4 linked regions of the Homo sapiens genome follow. The protein of the gene in region 2 interacts with the protein of the main gene of each other region in a pairwise test. Each region holds a gene or a part of one and is shown on either strand. Other genes may lie near its edges.

What was found. Proteins that work in one complex are often made in the same cells at the same time.
Region 1: the proteins of GLP1R (region 2) and PAQR6 interact in a protein complementation assay, tested with the Homo sapiens proteins (one study listed by BioGRID).
Region 3: the proteins of GLP1R (region 2) and GABBR2 interact in a protein complementation assay, tested with the Homo sapiens proteins (one study listed by BioGRID).
Region 4: the proteins of GLP1R (region 2) and LAPTM4A interact in a protein complementation assay, tested with the Homo sapiens proteins (one large-scale study listed by BioGRID).

The regions. Positions count from the first base shown.
Region 1 is NC_000001.11:156,245,257-156,249,473, reverse strand, and holds the start of PAQR6 (membrane progestin receptor delta), read left to right. Parts: upstream 1-1,417; 5' UTR 1,418-1,517; exon of another isoform or gene 1,518-1,559; intron 1,560-1,841; exon of another isoform or gene 1,842-1,964; intron 1,965-2,717; 5' UTR 2,718-2,742; coding exon 2,743-2,793; intron 2,794-3,223; coding exon 3,224-3,351; exon of another isoform or gene 3,352-3,486; coding exon 3,487-3,692; intron 3,693-3,812; coding exon 3,813-3,939; intron 3,940-4,217. UniProt on the Homo sapiens protein: Plasma membrane progesterone (P4) receptor coupled to G proteins. Seems to act through a G(s) mediated pathway. Involved in neurosteroid inhibition of apoptosis. May be involved in regulating rapid P4 signaling in the nervous system.
Region 2 is NC_000006.12:39,075,496-39,080,571, reverse strand, and holds part of GLP1R (glucagon-like peptide 1 receptor precursor), read right to left. Parts: intron 3,043-5,076; exon of another isoform or gene 2,659-3,042; intron 2,251-2,658; coding exon 2,190-2,250; exon of another isoform or gene 2,105-2,189; intron 1,676-2,104; exon of another isoform or gene 1,616-1,675; coding exon 1,546-1,615; intron 1,461-1,545; coding exon 1,372-1,460; intron 1,009-1,371; coding exon 870-1,008; intron 1-869.
Region 3 is NC_000009.12:98,299,936-98,303,435, forward strand, and holds part of GABBR2 (gamma-aminobutyric acid type B receptor subunit 2 precursor), read right to left. Parts: intron 3,489-3,500; coding exon 3,306-3,488; intron 1-3,305. UniProt on the Homo sapiens protein: Component of a heterodimeric G-protein coupled receptor for GABA, formed by GABBR1 and GABBR2. Within the heterodimeric GABA receptor, only GABBR1 seems to bind agonists, while GABBR2 mediates coupling to G proteins.
Region 4 is NC_000002.12:20,041,629-20,045,128, forward strand, and holds part of LAPTM4A (lysosomal-associated transmembrane protein 4A), read right to left. Parts: intron 1-3,500. UniProt on the Homo sapiens protein: May function in the transport of nucleosides and/or nucleoside derivatives between the cytosol and the lumen of an intracellular membrane-bound compartment.

The DNA.
Region 1 (4,217 bases), on a different chromosome or scaffold from region 2:
TCAGCTCCTCCCCCTCAGGCTGGGAGGATAGCACAGGCTAGGGGCTCGGGGTGGAGGGTCTCAGCTCTGCTGCCCCCACCCCAGTACTAGCCTAGCTTCCCAAGCTGTGGCTTAGAGGATAGTTGGCTTCCTGCCTCTCTCCTCTAAAATAGCAAGTCTGGGAAATCCTGGGGTGAGTGGAGTCACCCCACTCCCAGTTGCTGGCAGAGACTGAGACTAAAGCATCACTTAATAAACCCCCCAAGCCCAATCCCTGTCTCCTGGTGCCTGTCTGTACAGAAGTTTCATTGGGGGGTGGGGCACTGAAGATGGCATCCTGAAATGCATTTTGGAAAGGCTTCTTTGAAGTGGATGGAACAGAACAAGAAGCAGGCAATTTGAGTGAAGGCCCTGGAGATGGTTTGATAGGCACTGTCAAGTTCCTTGACTGTAAACTGAGGCGGTGCCTTTGCAGGGGTGATAGTGAAAATCTCTTGCCAGCAACATCGCTGCCTGGGGTTGGTTCGCTGTCACTAGCTGGGTCCTCTTCCCCAAGGGGGTGGGGAGGTGAGCCTTGAAACCAGCCTCTGGCCAGGCGTAGTGGCTCACGCCTGTAATCCCAGCACTGGGAGGCTGAGGCGGGTGGATCACAAGGTCAGATCGAGACCATCCTGGCTAACACGGTGAAACCCCATCTCTACTAAAAATACAAAAAAAAATTAGCTGGGCATGGTGGCGGGTGCCTGTAGTCCCAGCTACTCGGGAGGCTGAGGCAGGAGAATGGCGTGAACCCGGGAGGCGAAGCTTGCAGTGAGCCAATATCGCGCCACTGCACTCCAGCTTGGGTGACAGAGCGAGACTCCACCTTAAAAAAAAAAAAAAAAAAACCAGCCTCTGAGTCCTCAAGTGCCTGTCCTGCAAGGATTGGCATCTCAAATTGTATTCGGGGGGGGGGGGGGGGGGAGGGGGAGGTGGTGAGCCTGGTGAATCCCCCATGATAGAACCAACATTTACCAAAGGCAGTTTGCTCTGAGCCCTAGGCAGCACCAGGTGCTAAGAGGCAGCAAAGCATGGTGAGAGATGGCTTCTGAAATCTGTTCTGCATTTGGGGATTTGGGTTCCTCTGCCAGCCTAAGGCAGAGCTGTCCCCAACTGCTGGGAGAACCTGGAACGGGAACACTGCTCTGAGTCGCCGGGGGGACTCTACAGCACCATGGCCACATCCTGCCTTGGGCCCCTACCCTGTTCTAGCCAGTCAGCACAGGGAGTTTGGGTCGTGCTGGAGGAGCTGGCTGTGTGCAGGCGGCCGAGTGAGCTGCCTGCTAATGGGGCTGGGCCACCCCGTGCTGCTCCCTGGAGGCTGGACAAGGCTGGGATTGTTCCCTGGCTCCCCTTTGTCTCCCCACTCCCCGCCCAGGCCTGGCCCGCCTGCCTGGCCACTCTTCCTCCATCAGCCTGGCTGGCAGCAGCCTTGGACTCCGCCCGTGGAGCCCTGGGCCTGTTGACCCACCAGCTTAGGAGCACCCACCAAGCTCTGGGTAAGGAAGCTCACCTTCTGGGGCTCTTCTGGGAAAATAGAGGTAAAGCATCTTGCTCCAGCCACCCCTCCCCCATTTCCATAGCAACTGCACACACTCCACTCCAGAGATCTCCAAACCCTACTACTAAGGGAAGGCACCGTGAGGGCAGCTAGACCCCAGCGTATTCCTCACTCCTCCCCCAGATAGATGGGCAGCACTCAGGGTAGGGGAGACCCCCGACCATCCCACTTGTGGGAGCGAGCAAGGGATACCCTGGGAGGCCCTCATCCATCTTTGTTCTGCTGGGGTGCAGGGACTAGGGCCAGGTTTGCCTTTGCCCAGCAGGGTCTCCAGCACCCATCTCGGGCAGAGGCTGGGGGAGTGACTGCTGGTGCAAGCCCCAAAGTGCATGCGGCAAAAACATGGATGCAGAGCTGGTGGCAAGAAGAGGGGCTAAGTTATAGAGTTGCTGCAAAGTTTTGGCCTGGGGAGGTGGGGGGAGTGTCCTAGTCCTCCTCCTGGGGCGGCTCCGCCTGCCCAGCTGGCCCAGCCCCTCCACTTGTGCCAAGGAATGTGCCGGGAGAGGCGGGCGGGGCAGCAGAGCTGCGGCCACCCGGAGGCAGTGCACAGGTCTGGGGCTGAGGGATACCTGGGCTCAGGAGGGGCAGGGACCCCAAAATTCTCCTGGGGGCACAAGTGTAGTCCTCAGAGAAAAGCCAGGCATCCCCCTACCTCCTTGTCCCACCTGATGGCATCTGGCTTCTCCAGAGATTCGGAGTGCCAAGAGTGTTCTGTGCTCAGTTCAGGCGCTGTGGGCGAAGCACATTCTGGTGGGAAAGGGAGTGGTACTCAGGCTGTCTCTGTGCTGGCCTCCAGGAGTCAGGATTCTTCCTGAGACAAAAACTGGGGCCTGCGGGGCTGGATCACTATTTGAGGCAGCCTCCCGGCTGGGAGGACCCCGCCACTCTTTGCTGGGCTGAGGCCGCCAAGCCCCTCAGTGTGGGGACTGAATGCCCCAAGGAGAACAGGGGTTGGAGTTAAGTGGTGCAAGGGCTGGGGAAGGTGGACCAGCTTCCCCAGGCCTGAAGGAAGCAGCTCCAGGAGGGAGGGTGCCATCTGCCTCCCACACGCACAGCCCATCCTGCGGCTGAACCCAGGTGAAAGGGGCCTGTGGATGGGGGCAGTTATCTGATCCCCTACCTCCCACTCTGTCTCTAGGTCAACGTGGAGGTACCAGGCCACCATGCTCAGTCTCAAGCTGCCCCAACTTCTTCAAGTCCACCAGGTCCCCCGGGTGAGGGGCTCCACCCACTGACCCACCAACCCCCATTCCCTAGAGGACTGACTAGGGGCTGACGTTCTTCTCTTTTAGCTATTGGGGCAGCCCCTCCTGCAGGCGAACTCTTACCCTCCCATTCCAGTGTGAGACTCTTCCTCTGTTCTCTGAGGAACAAGCTTGTGGCCCTCCATCTGGAGTCCCCTTCCCCAGAGCGCCCTGTGTGCTGCGCTCCACCCCCATCCCACCCCAATCTGGCTCTTCGGTTTCCTATTTGTTTTGTGGGTTGTGGGTACTGGGACCTGTGGTAACATCAGATCAGATTTAGTTTGGCTTGGGGGCCACGTTGATCTCCAGCCCAGCCTCTTTGACCCTGCTTCCAGAGATCTCAGATGGAGGGAAAGGGTCCGGGCACAGTGACGCCCTTCCTCTCCCACCACTACCCTAGGTGTTCTGGGAAGATGGCATCATGTCTGGCTACCGCCGCCCCACCAGCTCGGCTTTGGACTGTGTCCTCAGCTCCTTCCAGATGACCAACGAGACGGTCAACATCTGGACTCACTTCCTGCCCACCTGGTGAGGGGAGGCTCCGCCCCAGGCCGCGGCCTTGAGCTCAGAGGGGGTACCCAGGCGGGCAGGGACCGTCCAGGCCCACGGGCTGCAGCGGCAGTCGCGGGGGTCCGCGGCGGCCTGAGCACGCGCCCGCCGCAGGTACTTCCTGTGGCGGCTCCTGGCGCTGGCGGGCGGCCCCGGCTTCCGTGCGGAGCCGTACCACTGGCCGCTGCTGGTCTTCCTGCTGCCCGCCTGCCTCTACCCCTTCGCGTCGTGCTGCGCGCACACCTTCAGCTCCATGTCGCCCCGCATGCGCCACATCTGCTACTTCCTCGACTACGGCGCGCTCAGCCTCTACAGTCTGGGTGAGCCGGACAGGCGCGGGAGCGCGGGGTCTGGGCGTCCCGGAGCGGGGCGAGGGGTGGGACGCGGGACATAGGGGCGCGCCCCTCAGGCCTCAGCTGCACGCCCCCACCTCACCGCAGGCTGCGCCTTCCCCTATGCCGCCTACTCCATGCCGGCCTCCTGGCTGCACGGCCACCTGCACCAGTTCTTTGTGCCTGCCGCCGCACTCAACTCCTTCCTGTGCACCGGCCTCTCCTGCTACTCCCGGTGGGTTCCCAGGCCCCTCCAGTGGGGACGGGGAAGGCGGAGGCACAGGAGAGGACACACCTCACTGCTCTCGAACAGCACTGGAGGCATCGGGACCATGTACTGAGGACTTCCTCTGTCAGACCCTTTATCCCCACATACAGATGTGGTCCTTTACACAGGAGGTCATATGCCCTAACGGTTTTCTTAGCTGCAGGCTGTGCTGATATTCCATCTTTGCCCAAGTCCTCTTGCCTTTCTCTGACCCCTACCCCAAGCACAGCGATGGTGACCGGCCT
Region 2 (5,076 bases):
GATCCAGGAATGGGGCAGTGGCTTCCCTCTCATTTCCTTTCTGAAGGAACACCAGGGTTGCACCTCTGCGACTAGGCCTGGCTACAGGCCCCAGCTAGCCTCTCCCCATGGGTCTCCCAGGCATGTGCCATGGGGTCCAGGAGACCCTGCTCAGAAGCTGCCCAGAAGCTGTAGAGATCCTACATCCAACCTCTCCTTGAGGAGGCCTGATCCAGTGAAGTACAATGACTCTGATCATGGAGAATATTCCCCACTCCAGCCCCATCTGTTCATGAAGGAGACCCAGGGCTCCAGAATTGTGTTCTGTATGTCTGCACATGTATGTAAATACACACACATGAGCCCACATGTGTGCAGGCATCTCATGACACTCTTGAGGGGCAGGCAGGGACCAGTTTTTTTGTATTTTTACACCCCCTTAGCATCATCTAATGCTAGTGGAGAGGATCAGTTCTTTTCTTTGAAACTGTGACACCGTAACTCTGGTTTTAACACCTCTGAGTCTCCTCTGTAAAGTGAGGCTAACCCTGCACATCTCCTGGGTTCTGTGAGGAGTAAATGCACAATGCATGTAAAGCACCTGGCAGGGTGCTCGCCACCAAGTAGATGGCAGCTGCAATGCCAGGCTGGTACCCAGAGCTACATCCAGGAAGGCTTCTTGTCCCATGTGCTTACAGAGAAGACTGGCCCAGGTATTGGGACACCTGGGGATACTAGTTCTGGCTCTGCTCCAACTAGGTGACTTTGGGCAGGGATCACCCCTCCAGGTCCCAGTCTTCCCACCTTTTCCATCTGCATGATGCAGGCTGGTGTCTGTCCCACCCCCACTCTAGGACTTTACAAGCAAGTGTCCCCAAGCATGAAGTCACCTGGAAGGAGGTGAAGGAGAGCTCTGTAAACAGCTTGATGAAGCGCAGGGTCCCCCGGGCGTGCTCGTCCATCACAAAGGCAAAGATGACCTCATGAGTCCCCAGCAGGGGGATGAGTGTCAGCGTGGACTTGGCAAGTCTGAGGGGCAGGGCAGAGATCTCGAGTCATTCTGGACCTCTCCCATGGACTCTTCTTCCCTTTCTCTACCCTCCCCACTTCCTACCAAGTCCTGATATCTGGGTCATGGATGTTCTCCCACCCCAAATACCCTGGGACAGGCTGCCTGGAGGGAAAGAATAGAGGTCAAGACCCCAACAAGTCCAGGGGCTGCCCAGAGACAGGGCAAAAGCAAGGGTTTGGGGTCCAAGGCCAGGCCTGGGTGGAAGGAGAGGGTAGTGTAGGGCTCTAAGCTAAGCATCCCAGGATCTCTCTCTCTCTCTCTGCTAGAAGGAAAGGGGCACTTGCTGAGGGTCCTCAGTAAAGCCAGCTCAGTTACATCACCTGCATTTGATGTCTGTCTTGCACATGAGATTGGCCTTCAGTTTGGATACCACGATGCAGATGACCCGAACAAAGATGAGGAAGTTCACCTGCGGGGTGGGGCCGGGGATTGGCAGGGGGCACCAGCCCAGCCCTATCATAGCTGCCACTCCCATCCCTGACACCATCACTCACCCCAATGGCAAAGAGAATGGGCAGCCGGATAATGAGCCAGTAGTTCATGTTGGAGTTCCTGGTCCAGCAGCTGGGGAGGGAGAGAGATGCACACATGCATCCAGCAGGACTCACAGGACCCCCAGCTCAGGTGCAGGCACAGAGGCCGCCAATGCACATGGCCATGTTGAGTGCCACACACACAGCTCCCAGGAGCCACCCAAAAACCAGTCCCATGGACCCACAGAGCCCTGCCAGTGCACAGCCACACAACACACACGCATAGTCCAAATACACAGTCATACACAGAGATGCACACAGCCCCCAAACAAGCTTTCAAGGACCTACCAACACAGTCATGTGTGTACCCAGCATCATATACAAAATGACACAAACATTTCACTTGCAGATATTACAGAAAAACCTGCAGGAGGGCACCATGTACCCCACAGACCCAGTTCCGTTAGTCATCAAACAATCCTGGGACAGGGGCAGGGGCAGGGGCAGGGGCAGGGAGGGGAGATTAGAGAACTAAATTCACCTTCTAAGCTCCTGGTACCCCCCTTTATCCTCTCAACAGATGGGTGCCCCAGGTACCAAGGAATCCCATGGACCTTGAGGATGGGGACCTGGGCACACCCGCCCCCTTGGAGCAGGACACTCACCCCTCGTCCTCATAGAGGTACTTGACAATGCCCCAGGGGACAACAAACAGCAGGGGAACACCTAAGAGAGAGGGAAAGACAGAAGGGGAGAGGGGCTGGCAGGCCAGAGCCACAGTCTACATGCCGAGGCCTCTCCCTGCCCCAAGCCCCTCACACTTCCAGCCCCTCTCCTTGCCTGGCCTCCAACTATGTTTTCTAGTTTTTTTCTGGGCACCTGGGAGAACAGAGGCAGCAGGAGCCCCATGCGGACCCCCAGACTCTTCCTTACAGAGAGGTCCTCATCAGTCATCAGTCCCCCACCTCCTGTGTGCCAGGCACACTGTCAGGACTTGCCCTCAGAGTCCCGGCTAAGTTACCAGGCCACAGACACACAAACAGCAGCGGGACTGGGCCATGCGGTGGGGACAGCATGACGGATGAGGCAAGGAGCAGGCGAACCCTCTGATGCCCATTTTCTCTCTTGCTTCAGCCCACGTTGCCAGTCAACTCCTAAAGGCACTGGATGTCCTTTCAGTCATCTCTTCCCTACCACTGTGCACCTTCAAGAGGGCTCGGCAGAATCCTGGAATGGAGACAGGAGCCCAGTCCTTGATGCCAGCTGACCAACTAACTGTCCGCAGTGGCCTACAATAACAACAGCTACAACAATACTACTTTCCACTCGGCTGAGACTTGACTTGTGTAGTAGACAGCCTCTAAGATGGCCCCTAGGGATCCCCACCTCCTGTGCTCATACCCTTGGGTAGTTAGTCCACGTTGTATCAGCATTGTTTCATGTGACCCAGGAACCTCTGGCAGAAGTGATGGCATGTCACTTCTGATTGTTATAAAAGACACTGTGGCTTGTTTTGCATTCTCTTTCTCTTTCTCTGATCACTTGCTCTGGGGGAAACCAGTTGCCATGTGCTGAGAGAACTCAGAAGGCCTAGATGGAGGTCTCTGCAGCAAGAAATGGAGGCCTCCAGCCTTTGGCCAGCAACTGCGGCTTCCTGCCAACTGCCTCTTGAATGAGCTTGGAAGTAGATTCTCCATCCCCAGTTAAGCCTTGAGATGACAGCAACCCTGGTGACAGCTGGCTGCTTCTCTGAGAGTGCCCTGATCCTAGAAGGAGGTCTCAGAGAGAAGGGACAGCAGGGGGTGGGGGATGCCCAAGAAGGAAGTTTCTATATGTGTATGTGATTCAGGAAATCCACATGCTCTTGCCTAAAGAGTTTTCTCTGTGAGATCCTGAGCCACAAGGTACCCAGCTAAGTTGAACCGAGATTGCAGGCCACAGGAACTGTGAGATAACAATGGTTCGTTGTTTTAAGTAGCTAAGTTTCAGGGTTAATCGTTCTGCAGCAATAGAGAATTAATACAACTGGTTCCCAGTTCCTTGAGGGTAGAGCCTGGGCCTCACTCACCTTCAGAGCCTCAATGCCCAGATCACCCTGAGAGCTCAGGGTCTGTGTTGGTTGATTTAAAATTGGATTTTCCTTCCTCACATGACATATGAGGAGATGGATCAGGGACTCAGAAGGGCACAGGTGGGGCTCGAATTCAGGGCTGCAATCCCATACCCACTCCCACCGCCCTCAATGGCCTTCTGCACTGGCTGTCTCCATGCTCGTCTCCGTTGGCCCCTCCCTCAGTGTTGGAGATGTGTCTGAGATAGGTAAGCATGTGCATATTAAGGTATGTAGACATGTGTGTGTGAGGGTGTGGTGGGTGGACCATGAGTGTGCACGTATGACTTTGGGAATCTCTGCCTGGAGCACATTTCCAGGACAGAACCACTTCATAGCCTTTCCTGTCACCATTGTCTATGTCTTTAGCACATCAGTGTCCACTCAACAGCAGCTACTAAGCAGGTTGTGTGCCCAGATCTACTGTGCCTGATGATGCAGGGAGAGATGGAGGAGGCAAAGGAGCCCCCAGCGGACCAGCATTCTTCATCAGCTCTCTCTCTCCTGGCCCATTGATTTCTACACAAATCGGACCTCTCAGCATCTACGGTGCTTTAGTAACAGGCCTTTATGAGACTGGACAAGGAATGGGATGGTCTCCAAAGGCCCCAGCACATGGTACAGGCCCTGCCACATAGAAGATGCCCAGTGAGAATGGAACGAATGATGGGTGAGTCAACACACCAATAAGGGAAGGAACATTGTCTGGGCAAGAGCATGCCGATTTCCTGAACCACGTACACATGCAGAAGCTTCCTTCTGGGTATCCCTCGCCCCCTGCTGTCCCTTCTCTCTGAGACCTCCTTCCAGGATCAGGGCACTCACCCATGTTATCAGCCAGACCTGGCAAGTTTCACTCATCGTCAGCATTTCCTTAACAAGGCCTTTTCAAAAAACACAGTCACGAAAGCCCTGCTGCATGCAAACATTACGCACTCCCTGCTGGCTTCATCTTTCTCCCATTTAGAAAACGAGCAAGACAGGTTGGAGAAAAAAGCTCAAATTAAGACACACACAACTGGCTCCAGGAAGTAATGATTCCCTCAACCATCATTTGCCTCCCTCTTGCACAGCCTCCATGTGGGTTTCTACAGGCCCCCAACTGCCTGGGGACTGCAGCAGAAGCTGCCATGCCCTTTGGGGGACCTCTCCAACTGTGTCAGAGTCCTAATTTTAATTCTTCCACTTGCACATGAAGCTGAAAGTTGTTTCCCAAGTATCCCAGCTTGGGCAAGGCCTCCTGGCATCACGTCTGAGCTCCTAGCAACCTGTGAATCTCTCTCCGTCTCCCCCACCCCAATCCTCAAGAAAAAGGTGTTCTGATTAGAGCAGGGTGTCCTCCGGGTCTTGCCCTTGTGCTCCCACAGACCCCGAGCCCTGAGCTAGGGTGTGAGGTGGTAGGAAAAGGACTTGGCACTCCCTCCCCCATCTCCCACTCAGAG
Region 3 (3,500 bases), on a different chromosome or scaffold from region 2:
TACTGCAACCTTGATCTCCTAGGCTCAAGCAATCCTCCTGTCTCACCCTCCTGAGTAGCTGGGACTACACGTGCATGCTACCATGTCTGGCTAATTTTTTTTTTTTTTGGTAGAGATGGGGTCTCTCTATGTTCCTCAGGCTGGTCTTGAACTCCTGAGCTCAAGCAATCCTCCCACTTTGGCCTCCCAAAGTGCTGGGTTTACAGGCATGAACTACTGTGCCTGGCCTTATAATTACTATTACTGATACTTAATAGGACCCACAGTGGAGGACAGACATGCAGGGCTCGCGAGCTCTGAGCCTCACACTATCATGGAGACTCTGACCTGCAGGGTCTCACTCAGAGGAGTTAATCAGGATGGGTCCCAGTCATCCCCACGTTTTTATTTTTAGAGACAAGTCTTCTCTATGTTGCCCAGGCCGGTCTTGAACTCCTGGGCTCGAGCGATCCTCCCACTTTGTCCTCCCAAAGCGTTGGGATTACAGGTGTGAGCCACAGCACCTGGCCCATTCCCAGGTTATACAAAAATCAGGTGCAAGTCCTGGGGGCAATTCAGCCCCAGAGAAGCCTGGGCAATATGAGTGTTGGTAGTTGTTGGGGGTGGTAGTCGGGATGGGTGTTGAACATCTGTGATATTACCATATCTGTATAATAGAATGGCTTTCATCCATGATTCCTGGCTGCTATATCTCTTGTAAGAGTCTTTTGTTATAATGTTGGGGCATTTTAGGCCTCAGGAGCGGGCCTCATGAAACAGAATCACTCTCTCTGACCTTCTCCTGTCCTTTCTCACCTGCTCAAGGCAGGACTGTAATCTGATGTAGGTCAAAAGACCTTTATCACAGAGAGAAAGTCTTGCCCCATACCCTGGAGGAAGGAATGCTACAGAGAGGCCAAGAAAATTCTGAGCAGAAAGGCCTTGCTGGGTTTAGATCATGCATTTTTGTCCAATCACATTTCTACACAGTTGTCAGTCATGCCTCGTGTAATGAAGCCTCCATAAAAACTCAAAAGAACAGGGTATGAAGATCTTCTGGGTAGCTGAACACGTGAAGGTTCCTGGAGCATGGGGCCCAGGGAGGCAGGGAAGCTCCACACCCCTTCACCCGTCCTCGCTCTGTGCATCTCTTCATTCATGTCCTTGGTAATAAGCTGGTAAATGTGTTTCCCTGGGTTCCGTGAGCCCCTCTAGCAAATTAATTCAACCCAAAGCAGGATCCTGGGAGTCCCAACTTGAAGCTGGCTGGTCAGAAGTTCCAGAGGCCTGACTTATGACTGGTATCTGAGGGTAGGGTGGGGGTCAGGGGGAGCCTTGGGGACTGAGCCCTCAACCTGTGGGATCTGAAGCTATCTCTAGATATGTAGCATTGGATTTGAACTGGAGGCACCCAGCGGGTGCCTGCTGCTCGTTGGTGGGGAAAACCCCACACACATTTGGTCACAGAAGTCTTCTGCGTTGACTGTTGTGTTGGTGCAAGAGCACAGGAAAAACATGGTTAGAGGATTTTTCCAAACAGCATCCTGCTGTAGTATAAGGGAGGAGACCTGATAAACTATCAGAGGCTGTTCTGATGTCAGGAACACAGCCATGAAATTGTTTAACACGTTTTCATGTGGAGGAGGAGGGAAAGAGATACTCTTTTCTATGTGACTTAAATGGCAGGAGTAGGATCAAAGGGTGGGGACAACAGGAGGCCAGATTGTGATTCATTTCCGGGAAAAATAACACAACATTTAAGAGTTTTAAATAGTGGCCTGGGTTTCCTAATGTGACTGAACTCTTCATTGCTGAAGTGTGCAAGTAGAAGTGAAATGCAGTGACATGGTCGTACTCATCAGGAGAGGTCTGATATTGAAACAGAGCCTGTAATGGGCTTTGGGGGACAGAAACCCTTCTTAGTTTGCTCTGGCAGCTGATGGTGGGTTACCTCATCCTAAAGCAGTCATCTTTAGGTGCACAGACAACTGTATGGTGGCTCTCTGTGGCAGAATTCTGTGAGCCCCCCAAAGGGCGGCCAGATCTAGCAAATAAAAATCCAGAATGTCCAGTCAAATTTGAGTTTCAGATAATGGGTTCTTTTTTAGTATAAGTATATTCAAGTATTACTTGGGCTAAACTTTTACTGAAAATATGATTGGTTGTTGATCTGAAGTCTGAATTTAACTGGGCATCCCATATCTAATCTGGCAACCCTATGTCTCACTTCTTCCTTGCAGCTGTCCAGCTAGAGACGACGTTTCCCAGCCTCTCCTCTCACTAGGTGTGCTCATGTCAGTTTTTGTTGATGTGACTAGGGCAGAACCAAAATATGCACAATTTTTGGTGTTACTGCTTAAAAGGCAATCCCTCATGTGGACTTTCTATCTCTTCCCCTCCTGACACTGTGAACAGGACATGCTGTCCACCCAGCTCTCCCGCTATGAATGAAGAGAACACCCTGGAGAGTGGGGAAAACCAGAGGGCAGGAACCAAGCCCAGCAATGACCTTGGGGAGCAGAGCTGCCCCAACCGGGCCCTCTCTTTTCACGGCCATTAGGTAAAAGGGAAATAAACATATTTTCTCTGGGCCACTTTATTTTGGGGCCTTGTTTAGCCAGCATTGTAACCAATGTACTTTCCTTGGTCCCTTTCCTGTCCCCCTCCCTAATCAGAATTCCTCTATTAAAGCAACACACAGCCTGCAGAGCACGGGTTCAGGCATACCTCCAACCCAAAGGGAGGGGTAGAGGAGGGGAGGTAATTTGTTTTCCCTTCCCTGGTCTACAAGCCAAGCCTGGCTTGGGCACAAGGCAATCTGGCTATGGTCTCTCTGGAATATTCAAGAACCAGTTGAGAACCCTCAGGACAAAGGCGAGGTCTGCTGCAGCACTCTCTCTTGAAAAGTTTCTTTTCACTTTCTCTTCTCTTGTACATCACATAGATGTGGTGGTTGCTGGGTTGTGCTGGGAGAGTGAAAAACTGAGAGGGAGAGAGACACAGATAAAGAGACACTGACGTAGGAAGCTATGATAATCCAGAAGCTCACAAATCTCCCTGAGTTCCTTTCTGTCTGGGGATGGCTTGAATCAGGTGTTGCTGGCCTCCAAGAGCCTGGGTGAGGTGGGCAATAAGCTCATGTTGGATTCTGACAAATGCCTCTGTGTGGTTTATGTCACCCCTGGCTCTCGCAGCTGCAACTGCAGCTGATGAGACTGCACGGTCATGCTGCAGGGATGGTCTAGAGGAGCCTGAGAGTCCCCGCACAGGGTTAGAGGGGCTTCAGTGGCAGACAGGGCCCAGCTACCAGATGCAGAGGGAGGTACCTCTGTGATCTTCATTCGCAGGCGATGGTTTTCTGACTGTAGGCCCTCCAGGCGGGATGTGCTGGCTTGGTTCACACTGGTGACCGAGGTGGACGTTTTAGAATCTTCTTTCTTCTGATTCTGAGTGAACTGGAATCGCCTGTTCTGCGTTGCTGCATCTGGGTTTGTTCTCAGGGTGATGAGCTGAAAGGACAA
Region 4 (3,500 bases), on a different chromosome or scaffold from region 2:
AGGCTCATGTGATCCTCCCACCTCAGCCACCTGGTAGCTGGGATTACAGGTGCCCACGACCATACGCGGGTGATTTTTGTATTTTTAGTAGAGACGGGGTTTCACTATGTTGGCCAGGCTGGTCTCTAATTCCTGACCTCAAGTGATACACCCAGCCCTAGCCTCCCAAAGTGTTGGTATTACAGGCGTGAGCCACCACGCCCGGCCTTAAATCTACCTTTTGAGATAATGTGCTCTCCCTTCTAAATAAGTGCTCCAATACCTGAAAACAGCCTCCAAATACTGTGTTCTCTAGAATAGACATGCAGATCTTTAAGCCATTCCTCTGACTAGCATGTTTCCTAGCTACCTATTTCCCTTTTGTCTTCCTCTTTACACATGCTCCAGTTTGATGGACATATATTAAAATGAGGTAAAGTCACCCTGGTCAGAACATAATGGGATCTCAGTTCTCATATTCTGGCTAACGAATTTCAATTAATGCAACCTGAAGTTGTACTGAGGTTTTTTGTTTTTGTTAGAAACAAGGTCTCACCATATTGCCTAGGCTGGTCTTGAACTCTTGGCCTCAAGTGATCCTCCTGCTTTAGCCTCCCAACATGCTGTGATTACAGGCATGAGCCACCGCACCCAGCCTGCATTGGCTTTACAAATTTTCTGAATATCACATGAGAGTAACTCCCTAAAACACCAAGTTCTTTTTCACACTTGATTGTGCTAAGCTCCCACCTGTACAGTTGGATTCAGAGGCCCAAGCATAGGCCTTAATATACCTGTAATTGAGTTTCATCTTATTACATTCTTGCCTATGAAGATTTTCTGGATGTGGATTCTGACACACTACAGATTTACTGTCTCAACTTCCTGAATTTAGGATCAGCATGTAATCAGTATTTCCATCTAAGTTACTAACAAAAGAGAACAGAGGTGAGGACAAAGCTGCCAGAGGCTGCCCCTTCCCATTAACTAGCAACTTCTGAATAAAATTGTTTAGCTCTTTAGAGGAACAGCCTGCTGAAATCCCATTATAATATCTGAATTTTCCTAGTCTCCCAGGGTTGTAAATCCATTTTAAAAGGAAATGAGTTGTGCCTGTAGTTGTTGGCCAATCCCTGTGGTATCCCAGGAGGCTTCACTGCATTTAAGTACTCAGAAAGAGTATTGTTAACGACTCAAGACAGAAATCTCACGTAGGATTGGAGTTAGGCTTCCTTATCTAGCATAGTAAAGTTCACAGAATTTGCCCTCCTTCCCTTTGTGAAAATGTGAACATCTGGAATTTTCAAGGGTTAAGTTCCTATCAGTAGTATTTTAATTTATTTAGTTTTTGAGATGGAGTCTCGCTCTGTCGCCCAGGCTGGAGTGCAGTAGCGCAATCTCGGCTCACTGCAGCCTCCACCTCCTGGGTTCAAGCGATTCTCCTGCCTCAGTCCCCGGGGTAGCTGGGACTTTTTTTTTTTTTGAGACCAAGCCTTGCTCTGTCACCCAAGCTGGAGTGCAGTGGCGCAATCTCAGCTCACTGCAGCTTCCACCTCTTGGGTTCAAGCAATTCTCACACCTCAGCCTCCCAAGTAGCTGGGACCTTTTTTTTTTTTTTTTTTTTTGAGACCAAGCCTCGCTCTGTCACCCAGGCTGGAGTGCAGTGGCACGATCTCGGCTTACTGCAGCTTCCACCTCTTGGGTTCAGGCCATTCTCACACCTCAGCCTCCCGAGTAGCTGGGACTACAGGCGTGCACCATTCAAGCCTGGCTAATTTTTGTATTTTTAGTAGAGGTGGGGTTTCGCCACGTTGGCCAGGCTGGTCTCAAACTCCTGACCTCAAGTGATCCACCAGCCTTGGCCTCCCAAAGTGCTGGGATTACAGGTGTGAGCCACTGTGTCGGCCAGCTATCGATAGTATTTTAAACAAACTATTATATACTTCTCTCCTGTTTCACCTTGAATGATAAACACACAGGAAATGCATTTTCCTTTTATCAGCTGAAGTCATTTCACTAACATCCGCTAGATAAGCAGATCAAGTTTTATTTTAGGGTAGGTGATCTAAACAATGCCACAATATGAAATTTGGAATCAACCAATATTTATTGAGGATATGCTTTATGACATGTGTATTTACGTGTATTACTTCACTTATTCCTCACAACAACCCGTGAAGTAAGTATTACCAAAGCCTATGTGTAGATGGGGAAACTTAAGATTCAGTAAAGCTATATAACTTGTGTTAAGCTTGCTGAGCTGACAGATGGGAGAATCAGGACACAAGTCTGGTTTTTAAGACATCCTCCTTCTCAGCACTACGTGATTATTAATAAACATTCCCCAGTAACTCCTATTTTAAGGTCTTTCCCAAAGAAACCATTATCTAAGGCTATAAAATGTTTAGACTTTACTGTCTATGTTCAGCAGCAAGCCTCTTTCCTTGCATTGTTCAGAGGCAAGGCATGATATCTTTCAATTCTTGAGAGGACTTACCAGGAACAATCACTTTTGCAAGGTGGCTCTCCCCAGTTGAAAGCTGATTTTTTTTGTTGCCCACATTTGCTGCAATGGGTTTTGGCCAGCGTGTGTGGTGTATGAGTATGAGCTAATACAACTAGGTGAATTAATTACTGAACTATCAGATATATCTACTAAAACGTTATATGTTCTGTGTATGGAAATCAGTTTGAAATCAATTAGGCAAACTCTTCTTTGCTAAACACAGCATAGTCACAGTGAAAAAGCTCTCTGCGGTACAGAAATTCCTTTGTCAAGAAAAGCATGCAAACCCAATTACTAAATGAAGGGAATGACATGCCAAAAACATTTAGGAGTTCTATTTTCCCTTCTTAAATATTTTTATTACATGAAGGATTTCTAAAAATCTCACACCTATAGTCCCAGCTACTTGGGAGGCTGAGGTGGGAAGGATCGCCTGAGCTCTGGAGACCAGCCTAGGCAACAATACTAAGTCTGTCTCTTAAAAAACAAAAGAACTCTTCACTTTTCTTCTCTTCCATGGATAAGTCACACGCTCATCCACTATTATCTTCTTTTAGTACTAGAGACACTTCAAGTTTAATTTCACTGTGGGTCATACCACTAAATATTAAACAAAATAAATCGTAGGGCCAATCAGAAGGACCAAGAAACAGTGAAATAAATTTCAATGCTACTTCATTAAAAGCTTTTTCCAAATCTTCTTTGAGTTAATTATATTCCATTAGATCACATCATTTCATTAGAACCCCAACTTACATCTTAAAGTATTACACTGGAAAACCCATCCTTGTGACTTAAAAAAATTTTTTTTGTAGAGATGGAGTCTCACTATGTTGTCCAGTCTGGTCTTGAACTCCTGGCCTCAAGTGATCCTACTGCATTGGCCTCCTAAAGTGCTAGGATGACAGGCACGAGCCACCGCTCCTGGCATCCTTTGATCTTAAAGATATTCACCAACGAACGCCTACCTTGTGCTCACATGTAAGCCCTGGCAACTTATCTCTGATTAAAGTTG